2 separate regions of the Homo sapiens genome follow, and region 1 is linked to region 2. Evidence: fine-mapped expression QTL. A gene starts in region 2. The other region holds a variant in brackets. All regions are shown on one strand. Distances are between the middles of the regions. Region 1 has its middle 8.6 kb from the start of NOTCH3. Region 2 holds the start of EPHX3 (epoxide hydrolase 3).

Region 1 (9,837 bases), 21 kb after region 2:
GCCTCCCAAAGTGCTGGGATTACAGGCGTGAGCCACTGCACTCAACCTTGATGGTTCTTGTTTGCCTATTTGTTTCTTGTCTGCTTCCCTTCTCAGGGCAGGAACTGGCTCTGTCTTGGGTCACCTCTGTCTACAATAAGGCCTGGCACCAAGTAGGTGTCCAGTAAATGTTTGTTGAATGACTGAATGAAGGTGAGAAGAGCTGGAGGTTCAGAGTGAGCAGCCAGGGGAAAGGAGCCTTTGTAGTATGAGAAGCATTTTCCTACCAGTGGGAACTCTGCATGCAAAGGCTGACAAGGCTGAGAGGCAGGGAGATGAAGCTGATGAGGTGGGGAGGAATTGTGTCACTTCAGGCAATGGGGAGCCATGGAAGTTTCAAGCATCGGAGTGTCCCAGGGAAGCAGTGTCCAGGGGACATGGCTGGGTCCAGCCTCCCCACACTTGCCGAAGGCCCACACTCAATTGCCCTCACTCCTGCTGGTTCTCACTAGGCTCCCACAGCCCACTGCCTGGCTCGAGAACCTGGCCCCAGCTTCCGCGCAGAGGGCGGGACTGTAGTCCCAAGAGGAGAAGCCAAGGGCACATTCTCAGGTTCCCGGTCAGCGGGCCGGCAGCTGTGTCTTGGCCTGGCCCCAGGTCCCGCGTCCCCAGGGACTGAGCTCATGGAGGAGAAATGCAGTCCCCAGCCAAGGCAGCCAGCAGGGGCCGGGGAGGGGGCTCAAGCCCACCCCCACCATGTTGGGAACTGTGCGGCCGCAGCTGCAAGGCCATGGGAAGGGTTGCTCCGACTGCCCAGTCCCCTAGGGATCTGGACACCTTGGGTGGGTCCCACCACCGTGGCTGGAGGGCAGTGGCAGGAACCCGCAGCTGAGACCCCATCTTCGGCTGAGCGGGTGCTTTGTAGATGGGTCTTTCTTCTTCTTCTTTTTTTTTTTTTTTTGAGATGGAGTCTCGCTCTGTCTCCCAGGCTGGAGTGCAGTGGCACAATCTCTGCTCACTGCAAGCTCCACCTCCCAGGTTCACGCCATTCTCCTGCCTCAGCCTCCCAAGTAGCTGAGACTACAGGCGCCCGTCACCACACCCGGCTAATTTCTTTTGTATTTTTAGTAGAGTCGGGGTTTCACCATGTTAACCAGGATGGTCTCAATCTCCTGACCTTGTGATCCGCCCACCTCGGCCTCCCAAAGTGCTGGGATTACAGGCTTGAGCCACTGCACCCGGCGGGGTCTTTTTCTTTTTTTCTTGAGATAGAGTCTTGCTCTGTTGCCCAGGCTGGAGTGCAGTGGTGCGATCTCGGCTCACTGCAACCTCTGCCTCCTGGGTTGCAGGGATGATTCTCCTGCCTCAAGTGATTCTCCTGCCTCAGCCTCCCAAGTAGCTGGGATTACAGGCGTCTGCCACCAAGCCTGACTAATTTTTGTATTTTTAGTAGAGATGGGGTTTCACCATATTGGCCAGGCTGGTCTCGAACTCCTGACCTCAAGTGATCCGCACGTCTCAGCCTCCCCAAGTGCTGGGATTACAGGCATGAGCCACCGCTCCTGGCCGGGTCTTTCTTCTTTTAGTCTGTATTCCCCCGTGAAGTCCTCTGCCTGGGTTTTCACCGTTACTTCCCCCTCTCCCACAGATCAGGGTGTGCTGTATCAGCAGTCACAGACTCTGAACTTCCTGCCTAGTGAAATGTGTGTCCAGGGTCCTTGGTTGCTCCTAGTGATGAGGAGCTCAGCACCTCCTACAGCATCCATTCCAGCAGAAAGCCCTTTCTCAATCGCTTGAACACCGGAGGCGGAGGTTTCAGTGAGCCGAGATCGAGCCACTGCAGCCTAGCCTGGGTGACAGAATGACATTCTGTCTCAAAATAAATAAATAAATAAATAAAATAAAGAAAAAAAAGAAAGAAAGCCCCTTCTCAGATGGGCCAAGGGAGGAGCTGGCCTTTCCTTGAGGGCCCTAACTTTGCCCCTCAATCCCTAGACCCTTCTGTGGAACCATAGACCACCCCCGCCTGCAAAATTATACTGAACAGAGTGGTTTGAGGCCCCTGAAGTGGCTAAGTGGCTTTTTTTTCGGGGGACAGGGTCTCACTCTGTCACCAGGCTGGAGTGCAGTGGTGCGATCTTGGGTCACTGCAACCTCCACCTTCTGGGTTCAAGTGATTCTCCTGCCTCAGCCTCCCGAGTAGCTGGGACTACAGGCACCTGCCACCACGCCCGGCTAATTTTTTGTATTTTTAGTAGAGATGGGGTTTCACCATGTTAGCCAGGATGGTCTCGATCTCCTGACCTCGTGATCTGCCCACCTTGGCCTCCCAAAGTGCTGGGATTACAGGCGTGAGCCACCTCGCCCGGCCCTGAAGTGGCTCTTCTGGGCTGGGCTTCCCAGCTCCTTCAGCCCCTTCCTGAGTCACCAAACCGTCCTACGTCACCTGCTTTTTGCTCACTCCATGCTGGGGGATGCTGGGACCCTCAAGAAGCCTCATCCTCTGTCTAACCCCCAAGGAGCCCTCAGTCCTTTGTTTGTTTGTTTTTTGTTTTTGTTTTGAGACAGGGTCTCAGTCTGTCACCCAGGCTGGAGTGCAGGGGCACGATCTCAGCTCACTGCAACCTCCACCTCCCAGGATCAAGCAATCCTCCCACCTCAGTCTTCTGAATTGCTGGGACTACAGGTATGCACCAGCATGCCCAGCTAATTTTTGTGTTTTTTGTAGACACAGGGTTTTACCATGTTACCCAGGCTGGTCTGAAATGCCTGTCCTCAGGTGACCCACCCCCCTCGTCCTCTCAAAGTGTTGGGATGACAGGCATGAGCCCCTGTGCCCAGCCAGCCCTTAGTCTTTAAATAGGGGACAAACCAGGGTACAGACACCCCCAACCCCTTGTGAACAAGGCTGAGCCATGGAGAAAAAGGGCACCGGGAGAGCGGGGGTGTCGGGGAGAGAGCAGCGCAGACTGAGGGACAGGGAGGACTTCCCGGAGTGGTATCCCTGAAGAATGGATAGGAGGTAACCAGAAATAGAAATAAGGGGCCAGGCACAGTGGCTCAGGCCTGGAATCCCAGCACTTTGGGAGGCCAAGAGCAGGAGGATCGCTCAAGCTCTGGAGTTTGAGACCAGCCTGGGCAACATAGCGAGACACTCATCGCTACAAAAAATACAAAAATAAGCAGGGTGTGGTGCTGAGCACCTGTAATTCCAACTACTCGGGAGGCCAAGGTGGGAGGATCACTTAAGCCTGGGAGGTCAAGGCTGCAGTGAGCTGTGTTCACGCCACTGCACTCCAGCCTGGCCTATAGAACGAGACCCTGTCTCTATTAAAAATAAGTAAATAAATAAATAGAAAGAAAGAAAGAGAGCAGGCCAGGCGTGGTGGCTCACGCCTGTAATCCCAGCACTTTGGAAGGCTGAGGCGGGCGGATCACTTGAGGTCAGGAGTTCGAGACCAGCCTGGCCAACATGGTGAAACCCCATCTCTACTAAAAATACAAAAATTAGCCGGGTGTGGTGGCCCGCCCCTGTAATTCCATGGGAGGCTGAGGCCGGAGAATCACTTGAACCTGGGAGGTGGAGGCTGCAGTGAGCCGAGGTCACACCACTACTGCACTCCAGCCTGGGTGACAAGAGCGAAACTCTGTCTCAAAAAAAAAAAAAAAAAAGAAAAGAAAAGAAAAAAATAAAGAGAGCGGCATGGGCAAAGGGGTGGCCTGTGTGAGAACTGTGTGAGAAACAGCAGAACATTCCCTCTAGCTGGAAGAAAATGAATTTTTGAAGAGGTCACACTGGCTGTGAGTTCCTGCTTGGGGAGGAAGCAAAAGGGTGTTTCTGTGCAGCTGGGTGTCTCAGGCAGAGGGAAGCACCCAGGCAAAGACCATGGGAGCACAAGGCCTGCTGGTTGCATCTGGGGTTTGACATGGTGTGACAATGGTTTTTTGTTTGTTGTTTTTGCTGGGGGTTTGGTGGGGAGGGTTAGGAAGGAGAGGGTCAGTCCCGGCCCAAGGGGCCCAAATGCAGGACTGAGGGCCTTGGATTTCCTTCCTGGGTGGTAGGCATGACGCAGGACTAGATCTGTGCCTGTCCCCATGGGCCTCTTGACTCAGCACAGTCACCGTGAGTCAGTGTGTGCCCCTTCTTAGGCAACTT[C/T]TGTTATTCCTCTGCCCAACCCCTACCCCGCCCCTGTACTCCATGTGGCCGGGAGTCACTGAGACCCAGGTTCATTTTTTTTCTTTTTCTTCCTTTTTTTTTTTTTTAATAAGGTCACTCTGTTGGCCAGGCTGCAGTGCAGTGGTGCGACTCGACCATGGCTCCCTGCAGTCTGGAACTCCTAGGCTCAGGTGATCCTCCTGCCTCAGACGCCCACATAGCTGGGACTACAGGTGTATGGGGTCTCACTGTGCTACCCAGGCTGGTCTCGAACTCTAGGCTCAGGTGATCCTCCTGCCTCAGCCCCCTGAGTAGCTGGGACAACAGGTGCACACCACCACACCCAGCTAATTCTTTCTTTTCTTTTTTTGTAGAGACAGAGTCTCACTATGTGGCCCAGTCTGGTCTCAAACTCTGAGCTCAAGTGATCCTTCTGCCTCAGCCTCCCAAAGTTCTGAGATTACAGGTGTGCTACACTGTGCCCAGCCAGTTTTTTTTTTTTCTTTTGAGAAAGTCTTGCTCCAAGGCTGGAATGCAGTGTCATGATCATCTGCAGCCTGGAACTCCTGGGCTCAAGCGATCCTCCTGCCTCAGTGTCCCGAGTGGCTGGGACTATAGGCGTGCACCGCTACACCTGGCTTGAGACTTAGCTTCAAACCTCAACTTTTCTTCCAGAAAGGCTGCAGTGAGTCACTGTTTTTTTTGTTTTTTGTTTTTTTTGAGATGGAGTTTCACTATTGTTGCCCAGGCTGGAGTGCAGTGGTGCGATCTCGGCTCACTGCAACCTCTGCCTTCCAGGTTCAAGCGATTCTCCTGCATCAGCCTCCTGAGTAGCTGGGATTACAGCCACCCGCCACCGTGCCCAGCTAAGTTTTGTATTTTAGTAGAGACGGGGCTTCACCATGTTAGCCAGGCTGGTCTCAAACTCCTGACCTCAGGTGATCCACCCACCTCAGCCTCCCAAAGTGCTGGGATTCCAGGCGTGAGCCACCGCGCCTGGCCTGTCTTCTCTAAGTTATATGGCTGTACCTGTAAGATGGAAATGATTGAACATCTTCACCTCCTGCCCTCTGAGAAGCCAGGGCAAGACCAGGGGTTGTCAGTGATGCTAGCCGCTGGTCAGTCATTCAACTTTCTTCTTCTTCTTTTTTTTTTTTTGAGACAGAGTCTCGCTTTGTCACCCAGGCTGGAGTGCAGTGGCGCGATCTTGGCTCACTGCAACCTCCACTTCCCGAGTTCAAGTGGTTGTCCTGCCTTAGCCTCCTGAGTAGCTGGGATTACAGGCATGCGCCACCATGCCCGGCTAATTTTTGTATTTTTAGTAGAGACAGGGTTTCACCATGTTGGTCAGGCTGGTCTGGAACTCCTGACCTTGTGATCTGCCCGCCTCGGCCTCCCAAAGTGTTGGGATTACAGGCGTGAGCCACTGTGCCCGGGCCTCAACTTTCATCCTTAGCACTCTCTCTCTCTCTCTCTTTTTGAGACAGCTCTGTCACCCAGGTTGGAGTGCAGTGGTGTGATCATAGCTCACTGCAGCCTGGAACTCCTGGGCTCAAGCGATCCTTCCGCCTCAGCCTCTTCTTTTTTTTTTTTTTTTTTTTTTTTGAGATGGAGTCTCGCTGTGTCGCCCAGGCTGGAGTGCAGTGGCACGATCTCGGCTCACTGAAAGCTCTGTCTCCCAGGTTCACACCATTCTCCTGCCTCAACCTCCCGAGTAGCTGGGACTACAGGCGCCCATCACCACGCCCGGCTAATTTTTTGTATTTTTTAAATAGAGACAGGGTTTCACCGTGTTAGCCAGGATGGTCTCGATCTCCTGACCTCATGATCCGCCCGCCTCGGCCTCCCAAAGTACTGGGATTACAGATGTGAGCCACCGCGCCCAGCCCCTCAGACTCTTAAGTAGCTGGGACTACCAGTGTGTGCCCATGCCCAGATAATTAATTTTTTTTTTTTTTTTTTTTTGTGACGGAGTCTCACTCTGTCACCCAGGCTGGAGTGCAGTGGCACAATCTCGGCTCACTGCAACTTCTGCCTCCCGGGTTCAAGCGATTCTCTTGCCTCAGCCTCTGAGTAGCTGGGACTACAGGCACGTGCCACCATGCCTGGCTAATTTTTCGTATTTTTTAGTAGGGACGGGGTTTCACCATGTTAGCCAGGATGGTCTCCATCTCCTGAACTTATGATCCTCCCGCCTTGGCCTCCCAAATGGTGGGATTACAGGGGTGAGCCACCACACCCGGCAATTTTAAAATTTTTTATAGAGATGGGATTTCACTATGTTGCCCAGGCTTATCTGGAATTCCTGAGCTCAAGCAATTCTTCTGCATCTGCCTCCTAAAGTGTGATTACAGGCATGAGCCACCATGCCCGGCTGTCTCTCTTTGACAATCCTTCTCTGTCTCCTTTGCTTCTTTCTCTTTCAGCCTTTAAAAATCATCCATCCAGCCAGGCGTGGTGGCTCACGCCTGTAATCCAGCGCTTTGGGAGGCTAAAGCGGGCAGATCACAAGGTCAGGAGTTTGAGACCAGCCTGGACGGTATGGTGAAACCCTGTCCCTACTAAAAATACACAAAGTTATCTGGGCATGGTGGTGCACCTGTAACCCCAGCTACTCAGGAGGCTAAGGCAGGAGAATCTCTTGAACCTGGGAGGCAGAGGTTGCAGTGAGCCAAGATTGCGCCACTGCACTCCGGCCTAGGGAACAGAGCAAGAGACCGTCAAAAAAAAAAAAAAAATCCATCCAGCCAGGCACAGTGGTTCATGCCTGTAATCCCAGCATTTTGGGAGGCCGAGGCGGGTGGATCACAAGGTCAGGAGTTCGAGACCAGCCTGGCCAAGATAGTGAAACCCTCGTTTCTACTAAAATACAAAAATTAGTCAGGCATGGTGGTGAGTGCCTGTAATCCCAGTTACTTGAGAGCTGAGGCAGAGAATTGATTGAATCCAGGAGGCGGAGGTTGCAGTGAGCTGAGATCACACCACTGCACTCCAGCCTGGGTGACAGAGTGAGACTCCGTCTCAAAAAAAAAAAAAATCATCCATCCAAAGTATTAATGGACCACTGGATAAGTAATGTGTGGTATAGCCATTCAATGAAATATTACTTAGCCATAAAAAGGAAGGAAGGCCGGGCACAGTGGCTCATGCCTGTAATCCCAGCACTTTGGGAGGCTGAGACCAGCCTGGCCAACATGGTGAGGCTCTATTAAAAACATAAATTTTTATATTTTTACAAAATAACTAGGATTATTAACTACTAAAAATACAAAAATTAGCTGAGTGTGGTGGCAAGTACCTGTAGTCACAGCTATTCAAGAGGCTGAGGCAGGAGAATCACTTGAACCCAGGAGATGGAGGTTGCAGTCAGCTGAGATCGTGCCACTGCACTCCAGCCTGGGTGCAACAGAGTGAGACCCTGTCTTGAAAAATAATAATAATAATAATAATAATAATAATAATAATAATAATAATAACTAATAAAATAAAATTAAAAGGAAGGAAGCCAGGATCCATGCTAAAACATAGAACAACCCCAAAAACATGATGAGAAGCCAGACACAAAAGGCTACATAGTGTATGATTCCATTGACACGAAATGCCCAGAATGGATAAATTCATAGAGACAGAAAGTGGATTAGTGGGTTCGAGGGCCTGGAGGAGGGAGAATGGGGAGGTTTCCGTTTGCAGGGATGGAAATGATCTGTAACTAGAGGTGATGGTCACACAGTATGAACACACTTTAAAGTGGTCAATGTTTAATTTTACGTTATGTGAATTTTACCTCAATTAAAACAAAAAGCACCAGAGAAGGCCAGGAGTTGTGGGGCGTGTCTATAGTCCCAGCTACTCGGGAGGCTGAGGAAGGAGGGTCACTTGGGCCCAGGAGTTCGAGGCTGCAGTGAACTATGATTGTGCCACTGGAACCCTGCCTGGGAAACAGAGCAAGACACTGTCTCAAAAAAAAAAAAAAGAAAGAAAGAAAGAAAACAACAACAACAACAACAAAAACAAACGAACAAAAAAAGAAAGCAAAACAATGATCAGGAGAAATAATCAAAAGATGCTAAAATCTATGGGGGAAAGCTTATTGGGCAGTAGGATATTCACACGGTCTCAATGTATCTCCCTATAGGGTAACTGTTCTGCGATGCTAGCCCCTGGTCAGTCATTCAACTTTCATCCCCCTTACAAAGGGGGAGGATGGAAAGGGAGGAAAATGGCACCCTTATAGCAGGGAAACTTGACCAACTTTGCCCCGGTGATGACAGCTGAACATCACCAATGCTGGGAACTGATGTCAGGAACCTCCTGATACGATGCACCCAGGAGGACCCAGCAATGCTTCTGTGGTTTCTGCCGAAGATGCACAGCCTGAACCTGATCACGAGGAAATGGCAGGCCAGCCATTCCTGCACAACTGCTGGCCATTCTGCACAACTGACCTCAGCTCTCCAAAAACGTCAGTGTCATGAAAGACAAAGAAAGACTGAGGAACCAATTCAGATTAAAAGAGACCAAGAGATATAAGGATTAGAATTAGCCGGGTGTGGTGGCTAGCTACTTGGGGGGCTGAGGCAGGAGAATCCTAGCTACTTGGGAGGCTGAGGCAGGAGAATCCTAGCTACTTGGGAGGCTGAGGCAGGAGAATCAGTTGAACCTGGGAGGTGGAGGTTACAGTGAGTCAAGATCATGCCACTGCACTCCAGCCTGGGTGACAGTGCGAGACTCTGTCTCAAAACAAAAGGATTAGATGCAACTCATGATGCAGCATTAGATAGATCCTGGGCCAGCAAAGAAACATTGCAATAAAAGATTTAATTTTTTTTTTCTTTTCTTTTCTTTTTTTTCTTGAGACTGAATCATGCTCTTTTGCCCAGTCTGGAGTGCAGTGTCGCGATCTCGGCTCACTGCAAACTCCGCCTCCTGGGTTCAAGCGATTCTCGTGCCTCAGCCTCCCGAGTAGCTGGGATTACAGGCACTTGTCACCATGCCCAGTTAATTTTTGTATTTTTAGTAGAAAAGGGGTTTCACCATGTTGGCCAGGCTGGTCTTGAACTCCTGACCTCAGGTGATCAGCCGGCCTCAGCCTCCCAAAGTGCTGGAATTACAGGTGTGAACCACCGCGCCCGGCCACTAATTTTTTTGTTTTTTCCCCACAGGGTCTTGCTCTGTTATCCAGACTGGAGTGGAGCAGGATGATCACAGCTCACGGCAGCCTCGACCTCCTGGGCTCAAGCAACGCTCTCACCTCAGCCTCCTGAGTAGCTGGGACTACAGGTACGCGCCACTATATGCTGCTAATTTTTTCTAGTTTTGTAGAGTCAGGAGTCTTACTATGTTGCCCAGGCTGGCCTTGAACTCTTGGCCTCAACCAATCCTCCCTCCTTGGCCTCTCAAAGTGTTGGGATTACAGGTGTGAGCCACTGTACCTGGCCCAATAAAGGATATTATTTGGGCAACTAGCAAACTTTGAATACAGACTGGGGCAAAAACTGTAGTATGTTTATGAAAGAGGATACCCTTGTTCTCAGGAAACACACAGCAAAGTATTTGAAGGCAAAGGAACATCATATCTACAACTTACTCTCAAATCATTTAGCCAAAAAATGCATATATGCATATGTGTATAACGTATATGTACACATATATGTCAAATGTGGCAAAATGTGGGTGGTTGGTGAATCTGGACAAAGGGCTTA
Region 2 (8,828 bases):
AGACTTGGGAGAAGCGGGGAGATGAGGGCGGGGGGTCAGTGATGTGTAGGAGAGGAAGAAGGGAGGTTCCCCAGACACCCACCACCCATGCGTCCAGATTAGCGGAGTCGGTTGGGAGAGATCCTGGGAACATCAAATTGTGAGATAATTGATTTAATGGAAGGTGTAAAAGAAAAAGCTGCCAGGCACGGTGGCTCACATCTGTAATCCCAGCACTTTTGGGAGGCCGGGGTGGGAGGATCGCTTGAGGTCAGGAGTTAAGAGACTAGCCTGGCCAACATGGTGAAACTCCCATCTCTACTGAAAAATACAAAAAATTAGCGGGGCGCGGTAGCACACACCTGTAGTCCCGGCTACTCCGGAGGCTGAGGCAGGAGAATTGCTTGAACACTGGAGGCGGAGGTTGCGGTGAGCCGAGATCACACCACTGCATTCCAGCTTGGGTGATATGGTGAGACTCCCATCTCAAAAAAAACAAAAACAAAAAAACCCCCAAAGCTTTGATGTAGGCTAATCACACAACAAAAGAAAGGTAGTGGTTAAGTAGTCCAGGGAGAACAAAAGTTTGTACACTATGGGCAATGTAATCATAGTGGTCTATTCGGCTCTTGAGATGCATTGTTCACTGAGGCAGAACATAAACCACTATTCACCTTTAAGTGGCAACTTCATGGACTTAGTTATGGTCCCAGGACAGTATAATGTTTAGCAGCCTTGACAGTACAAAGGTATATGGATAAAAGTGGGAGGTGGAAAGGGGCAAGAGGTGACAAGTGGAGTGTTTTTAAAGGAAACTAACAGGGAAACAAAAAACGGCACGTCCGGGGTAGTGATGTGAGCAAGTCAGTGGCTGATGTCATACATTGGTTAAGTCAAGAAATAAAGGTCAGGCACGGTGGCTTGCATCTGTAATCCCACTTTGGGAGGTGGAGGCTTGAGGATTGCTTGAGGCCAGGAGTTTGAGACCAGCCTGGACAATATAGCAAGTCGTCTCTCTGAAAAGTTTTTGAAAAATTAGCTGAGTGTGGTGGCACAGGCCTGTAGTCCCAACTACAGGTTGTAGTGCTTGAGCCCAGGAGTTCGAGGCTGCAGTGAGCTATGATCGAAACTCCATCTGAAAAAAAAAGAAAAAGCTAAAAACGTTCCAGTGGCTGCTTCCGGGAGGAAGGGGAGGTGTAGCCACAGATCGCTGCCTTTTTCCCTACATCTTTGCGGATGGCTATTTTACAAGATGTATGTCTTCAGGCAAATGACTTCATCCTCGAATTTCAGGTTCATGATCTATACTACAGGAATGTGATTATGCTACTTAGACTTAATAGGGTTGCTCTATGGTTAAGTGATGGCTGTCCCTAAAATGTTCAAGGATATCGGGAGAAGGTTGCAAAATAGGAGGAAGAAGCTGGCTGCTTTTTTTTTTTTTTTTGAGACGGAGTCTCGCTCTGTCGCCCTGGCTGGAGTGCAGTGGCGCAATCTCAGCTCACTGCAACCTCCGCCTCCTGGGTTCACGCCGTTCTCCTGCCTCAGCCTCCCTAGTAGCTGGGACTACAGGCGCCCGCCACCACGCCTGGCTAATTTTTTGTATTTTTAGTAGAGACAGGGTTTCACCATGTTAGGATGGTCTCGATCTCCTGACCTCGTGATCCGCCCGCCTCGGCCTCCCAAAGTGCTGGGATTACAGGCGTGAGCCACCGCGCCTGGCCAGAAGCTGGCTTCTTGCAGGGACAGCAGGGCCGCAAGGCTCTGTGACTCTAGGCCCCATCACACCCGGCCCTGTCCCACTTCCTCTTTCGGCCAGAACCCCAGAACTCCAGTCATTCATAGGCCGGGTCCTCCTCGGGGGAACCAGGCCTGCCCCCTAGGAATCAGGGTATCCACGCCTCCTCGGCCCGCTCTCGGAGCCTGGGCCTCAACACCTGCAGATTGGCTCCCGGGCCAGGACCTGTCGCTTGAACATCAGTGGCCGCCGCCGTCCAATCACAGACGTACAGGGGCGGGCTGGCGGGCCTGTTGGGCCAGCAGGAGGACGGCGCCGGGCCGAGGCCGCTGGACCCGCCGTTGGAACCACAGCTGGGTGAAGTCAGTGCTGCTAGGTCTTTGGAGCCAGACCGAAGGGAGGGTCGCGCGCCCCTGGGTGGGTAGCACCAGGCGGCGGCCGTCGGCCGGGCCTCCCGAAGCCTCCTCCAGCCGCTAATACCGCCCGCGCCTCCCTCCTAGTCCTAGACCTGGCATTGCCTGTCCCTCTTCTTCGTCTTCCAGACCCTCCTGACCCGCCATATTAGGTCCCGGCCCCGCCCTCCGTCTCATTGCCCATTGCCCACCCCACCCCACCGCCCCCTCCCCGGCCTACCGTCAGCTCATTGGCCCAGGCTCCCGCCTTCTTCGCCCAATGTTAGGCCTCACCTCCTCTAGGATCCACCCTCTCCCCGCCCACCCGCATAAGCCAGGCCCACCATTCCAACTCTTTCTCCTTTTTGGCTTGTAGGCCGCACCTACTCTGCATATGCCCCGCCCCTCACTCCAGGTGTCGCCCACTTAACTGAAGATCCAGGATCCCCTCCTTAAGGTTTGTCTGGGCTCGGAATTGCCTTTTTTTTTTTTCTTTTTTGAGACGGAGTTTCCCTGTTGTGACCCAGGCTGGAGTACAGTGGCGCGATCTCAGCTCACTGCAACCTCCACGTCCCGGGTTCAAGCGATTCTCCTGCCTCAGCCTCCCAAGTAGCTGGGACTACAGGCGCCCGCCACCACGCCCAGCTAATTTTTGTATTTTTAGTAGAGACGGGGTTTCACCACGTTGCCCAGGCTGGTCTCGAGCTCTTGATCTCAGGTGATCCGCCCGCCTCGGCCTACCAAAGTGCTGGGATTACAGGCGTGAGCCACCGCACCCGGCCCGGAATTGCCGCCTTTAGACCCTCACCCACCCGCTGCTGAGTCTTCCTGGGCCCCGCCCCGGCCCTAAGCCCCGCACAGGACCTGCTAGGCCCCGCCCATTTATTTCCCCCCTTTCCAACCTCTTCCTCCCCAGCCTCCGCACCCTACCCTTGTTTCCTGTCCCTGTCGCGCCCAGGTGTTTACCTGGCACTCAGGTGAGTGGTGCGCTCTGGCTGTTTTCTGTCGGAGCCGCCCGCCTCTTCCTTCAGCGCGTCCCACAAATCCCGACGGCACGGAGGGGCCCCAGGCCAAGGGCGATGGGCCCCTGAGCCCTGACACCGCTTCGCCGCTGCTGCAGGTGCCCCTGGCCGGCAGCGCCGCCGTGGTCCCGGAGCGCGGCGACATGCCGGAGCTGGTGGTGACCGCGCTGCTGGCGCCGTCGCGCCTGTCGCTGAAGCTGCTGCGCGCCTTCATGTGGAGCCTGGTGTTCTCGGTGGCGCTGGTGGCCGCGGCGGTCTACGGCTGCATAGCGCTCACGCACGTGCTGTGCCGGCCCCGGCGCGGCTGCTGCGGGCGCCGTCGGAGCGCGTCCCCCGCCTGCCTGAGCGACCCCTCGCTGGGTGAGCACGGTTTCCTGAACCTCAAGGTGATCGCACGGGGGCGCTATCGGGGCTGCGGGGTCGCGTGGGGTCGAGACGGTTCAAGCCTCGGGAGAGAGGGTTCCCCAGGCTTCAGGCTGTGCCCTCCCCCTAGAGCTCGGGCCTGCGTCTGCACTATGTCTCGGCTGGACGAGGTAACGGACCCCTCATGCTGTTTCTGCACGGCTTCCCTGAGAACTGGTACGTCTGGGGCCAGGGGCCTGAGGCCCACGGGACTCGGGGGCAGGTGGAGCTTGGGCTCCCAAGAGGCAGGGAGGAGGGCTGTATAGATCGGGACAAGCTGAACATAGATGGGGATAGGGGTACTGAGCCAGCATACCCAGGATCCCTAGGCCCTGAAGGGACAGGACAAAGGGGTATTGAGGTTGATTGAAGTTCCCTGGATTCAGGGTGTAGCTGGCTTCAGCCTCAGCCTCTGCCTCTGCCTGGGATTCCCCATCCTCCTTTTAGGGGAAGTTTAGAGCAGGAAGGAGGGTTTGCCAATGGTTGCTGATGTGCGTAGGGTGCAGGTGCAACCTGAGGGCCCTGACTCAGCCTCCCTCCCTCGCCCGCCTGGCAGGTTCTCCTGGCGTTACCAGCTCCGGGAGTTCCAGAGCCGCTTCCATGTTGTGGCTGTGGACTTGCGAGGCTATGGCCCCTCGGATGCACCTCGGGATGTGGACTGCTACACAATCGACCTGCTGCTGGTGGACATCAAAGATGTCATCCTAGGCCTGGGTGCAGACATACCCCCATCCTAGGCGTGGCCTCCCTCATCCTGCACACACGCATACCCCCGCTTTCTCCTTGCTGGAACCTACTTCCCCCATCCCTGCTTCAGTCCTACTGGGCACCTCACTTATGCGAGCTCCTTGAATTCCCACAGGTTACTCGAAGTGCATCCTTGTGGCCCATGACTGGGGTGCCCTCCTTGCCTGGCATTTCTCCATCTACTACCCATCCCTGGTCGAGCGGATGGTTGTGGTCAGTGGTGCCCCCATGTCGGTGTACCAAGGTGTGTGTGGGAGTCCGGGACACTGGGATGTACTTATGTGCAAGGGGGCAGGGACATGTGTCTGTGTTTTCAATTCTCTGTATACCTGTCAACACATCAGGGGCTGAGGGTGCAGCAATCAACCCAGGTCCCTTCGGTTGTGGAACTCCTCATTCGGAAATTAATGACACGCCAGACCCAGTGGCTCACACCTGTAATCCCAGCCCTCCGGGAGGCTGAGGTGGGAGGATCACTTGAGGCCAGGAGTTCAAGACCAGTCTGGTCAACATAGCAAGACCCCAACTGTCTCTACAAAAAAAAAAAAAAAATGTAATTAGCCAGGCATTGGTGGTGCATGCCTGTAATCCCAGCTACTCGGGAGGCTGATGCAGGAGAATCTCTTGAACCTGGGAGGTGGAGGTTGCAGTGAGCTGAGATCATGCCATTGCACTCCAGCCTAGGCAACAAGAGCAAAACTCCATCTCAAAAAATAAATAAATAAAATAAAGTATGGCCAGGCGTGGTGGCTCCTGCCTGTAATCCCTGCACTTTGGGAGGCCAAAGCCGGTGGATTGCTTGAGCCCAGGGGTTCAAGACCAGCCTGGCCAACATGGTGAAACCCCGTCTCTACTAAAAATACAAAAAAATCAGCCAGGCATGGTAGTGCACGCTTGTAGTCTCAGCTACTCGGGAGGCTGAGGCAAGAGAATCACTTGAACCTGAGAAGTGGAGGTTGCAGTAAGCCAAGATCGCACCACTGCACTCCAGCCTGGATGACAGAGTGAGACTCTGTCTCAAAAATAAAATAAAATAAAATAAATCACAATACACTTAGGAGTAATCCACATTTTTTTATAGCACTTACAGTAACAAGGAATATGCACACAGTAACCTACTTAAGGCTCCTGGGCTTATGAAGGTTGTATTATCCCCATGTTCCAGCTGGAGGAAACTGAGGCTGGGGAGGTTAACAATGTCTATCATATCACCTGATGTTAATATGCAGCACTGTGGTCATAACTGTGCTCTCTCTCTCTCTTTTGTTGTTTTTTTTCTTTTTCTTTTCTTTTCTTTTTTTTTTTTTTTTTTTTTTTTTTGAGACAGAGTCTTGCTCTGTCGCCAGGCTGGAGTGCAGTGGCGTGATCTCAGTTCACTGCAACCTCCGCCTCCCAGGTTCAAGCGATTCCCCTGCCTCAGCCTCCCAAGTAGCTGGGATTACAGGCCACCATGCCGGGCTAATTTTTTGTATTTTAGTAGAGACGGGGTTTCACCATGTTGGCCAAGATGGTCTTGATCTCCTGACCTTGTGATCTGCCCACCTTGGCCTCTCAAAGTGCTGGGAGTATAGGCGTGAGCCACCACGCCTGGCCCCTTTTTTTTTTTTTTTTCTTGAGATGGAGTCTCACTCTGTGCAGTGCAGTGGCGCAATGTCGGCTCACGGCAACCTCCGCCTCTCAGGTTCAAGTGATTCTCTTGCCTCAGCCTCCTCAGTAGCTGAGACTACAGATGTGTGCCACCATGACCGGCTAATTATTTTGTATTTTTAGTAGAAATGGGGTTTCAGCATGTTGGCCAGGCTGGTCTTGAACTCCTGGGCTCAAGCGATCTGCCGGCCTCAGCCTCCCAAAGTGCTGGGATTACAGGAGTGAGCCACCCTGCCTGGCAACCTCTACCTCCTGGGTTCAAGTGACTCTCCTTCCTCAGCCTCCAGAGTAGCGGGGACTGCAGATATGCCCCAACACGCCCAGCTAATTTTTGTATTTTTAGTGGAGACGGGTTTTCACTATGTTGCCCAGGTTAGTGTCTAACTCCTGATCTCAAGTGATCCACCCGCCTTGGCTTCCCAAAGTGCTGGGATTACAGGCGTGAGCCACCGCACCCAGCCTATTATTGTTTACTTGTCTGTCTCCCCATCTAGACTGTCAGCTCCCTGAGGGCAGGGAGTTTTTTGTCTTTTGGGGGTGTCTTTTTTTGTGTTTTGTTTTTTTTCCTTTGAGACAGTCTTGTTCTGTGGTCCAGGCTGGAGTGCAGTGCTGTAATTGCAGCTCACTGCAGCCTCAGACTCCTGGGCTCAAGCGATCCTCCCACTTCTGCTTCTCAAGTAGCTGGGACTATAGGCACACACCACCACACCCTGCTAATTTTTAAAAAATTATTTTTTGGAGGCCGGGTGCGGTGGTTCACGTCTGTAATCCCAGAACTTTGGGAGGCTGAGGCGGGTGGATCATGAGGTCCGGAGATCGAGACCATCCTGGCTAACACTGTGAAACCCTGTCTCTACTAAAAATACAAAAAAAATTAGCCGGACGTGGTGGCGGGTGCCTGTAGTCCCAGCTACCGGGAGGCTGAGGCAGGAGAATGGCGTGAACCCGGGAGGCGGAGCTCGCAGTGAGCCAAGATCACACCACTGCACTCCAGCCTGGGCGACAGAGCGAGACTCTGTCTCAAAAAAAAAAAAAAAAAAAAAAAAAAAAAAAAATTATAGATACAGGGGTTTCCTTAAGTTGCCTAGGATGAACAGGGAGTTTTGACTGTCTCATTCACTGCTGTGTCTAGAACAAGGCCTGGCATGCAGTAGTTGCTCAATAAATGTTAGCTGAATAAAGCAGAGGAAACGCACCCTGGCCTGGGCAGAGGAAGCACACCTTTGGATATGGGGGTTCCCAGGAGATGCCCCCATCCTGTGGATAGTGAAACATGGCAGGAGGGAATGTAGCTGGTGCCCAGGCCAGGAGGGGTATCTAGTACCTTCACAGACCCAGGCAGGCAGCAGTGGCATTCCTGAGGCTTGTGTCCCTGACCTGGGTATGTGTAGGGGTGCAGGTGTATGGGGCCACCCCAGGAGCAGGCCTTATATCTCTCCCCCAACCCTCCCACCCCAGACTATTCCCTGCACCACATCAGCCAGTTCTTCCGTTCCCACTACATGTTCCTGTTCCAGCTGCCCTGGCTGCCCGAGAAGCTGCTGTCTATGTCTGACTTTCAGGTACAGAGGGTGCAGGTTGAAGGGAGGAGGGAAGCAGGTCGGGGCTGGGCAGGCTGGGCACTGAAGCCAGAGTCCTGCTGTGTACCTAGATTCTGAAGACCACCCTCACCCACCGCAAGACAGGCATCCCATGCTTGACCCCCAGCGAGCTCGAGGCCTTCCTTTATAACTTCTCACAGCCTGGTGGCCTCACTGGGCCCCTCAACTACTACCGAAACCTCTTCAGGTGAGACCAGTTGCCAAGCATAAGCTCAGGAGATTTGCAGGGGCAGGGGGGTGGGAGGCAACCATCCTTCTGCCTGTCTGTCTGCCTGTCTGTCTGTCCTGGCCACAGGAACTTCCCCCTGGAACCCCAGGAGCTGACCACACCCACATTGCTGCTGTGGGGGGAGAAGGACACTTACTTGGAGCTGGGGCTGGTGGAAGCCATCGGCAGCCGCTTTGTGCCGGGCCGCTTGGAGGCCCACATCCTGCCAGGCATAGGGCATTGGATCCCACAGAGCAACCCCCAGGAGATGCACCAGTACATGTGGGCCTTCTTGCAAGACCTGCTGGACTAGTGGTCCTTGCTGGCCTGCCCAGGAGGCATGGATACTCAGGAAGGAACACACACCCATTATCTGTGTGTGCCTGGGAGTCCATACAATGTCCATACATGGGTGAACTCTTGAATCGCTCATAGGCATGGGACTCCTGGATCCCACACAAGCGCACCTATGGGTGCCTCGGGACACACCAACCCCTATACTCACACACAGGCATGGATGCATGTGTGTGTAACAAACACTTTGACCCTGGGAACTGGGTATACCTCTCTTCCAGTGGAGCCAGATGCCGAGACCGAGTGTCCCACCTCCTCCCTTCCTGGGGCCTCACTCTGCGCTTTGCCAAAGTCGCTTCTCTGCCATAGCTGCACAGACCTTAAACCCTGACCTTCCTGTCCCTGCCTTCGACCTCCTGCCTGGGTCTTCAGCTCAGTGCTACTCTGAATACAATACTGCTGACCACATTTGGCTACTTCAGCTTAAATGTATGTTAATTGAAATGAAATACAATGAAAATGCAGTGCTCAGTCCCACCAGCTGTATTTCATTTTTTTCCCCTTGAGACAGAGTCTTGCTGTGTCGCCCAGGCTGGATGGAGTGCAGTGGACGCAATCTAGGCTCACTGCAACCTCCACCTGCCGGGTTCAAGCGATTCTTGTGCCTCAGCTTCCCGAGTAGCTGGGACTACAGGAGCGTCACCAGGCCTGACTAATTTTAGTATTTTCAGTAGAGATGGGGTTTCACCATGTTGGCCGGGCTGGTCTCGAACTGCTGACCTCAAGTGATCTGCCCAC

What was found.
Region 1: its variant is fine-mapped to the expression of EPHX3 in whole blood (TOPMed, PIP above 0.99). The same link has a PIP of 0.9 or more in blood mononuclear cells.

Annotation. Positions count from the first base shown.
Region 1 is chr19:15,204,709-15,214,545 of GRCh38, reverse strand. No RefSeq gene overlaps it. Among named protein-coding and RNA genes, the nearest start is that of NOTCH3, 8.6 kb to the right of the region's middle. The variant C/T (reference allele first, on the strand shown) is at 4,136.
Region 2 is chr19:15,226,658-15,235,485 of GRCh38, reverse strand. EPHX3 (epoxide hydrolase 3) reads left to right here and starts at 3,038. Exons shown (of 7, transcript NM_024794.3): 1 at 3,038-3,517; 2 at 3,625-3,710; 3 at 4,090-4,247; 4 at 4,396-4,524; 5 at 7,386-7,489; 6 at 7,579-7,715; 7 at 7,824-8,567. The coding sequence starts at 3,275. The coding sequence ends at 8,049. RefSeq lists a silencer at 2,289-2,448 and an enhancer at 2,787-3,288.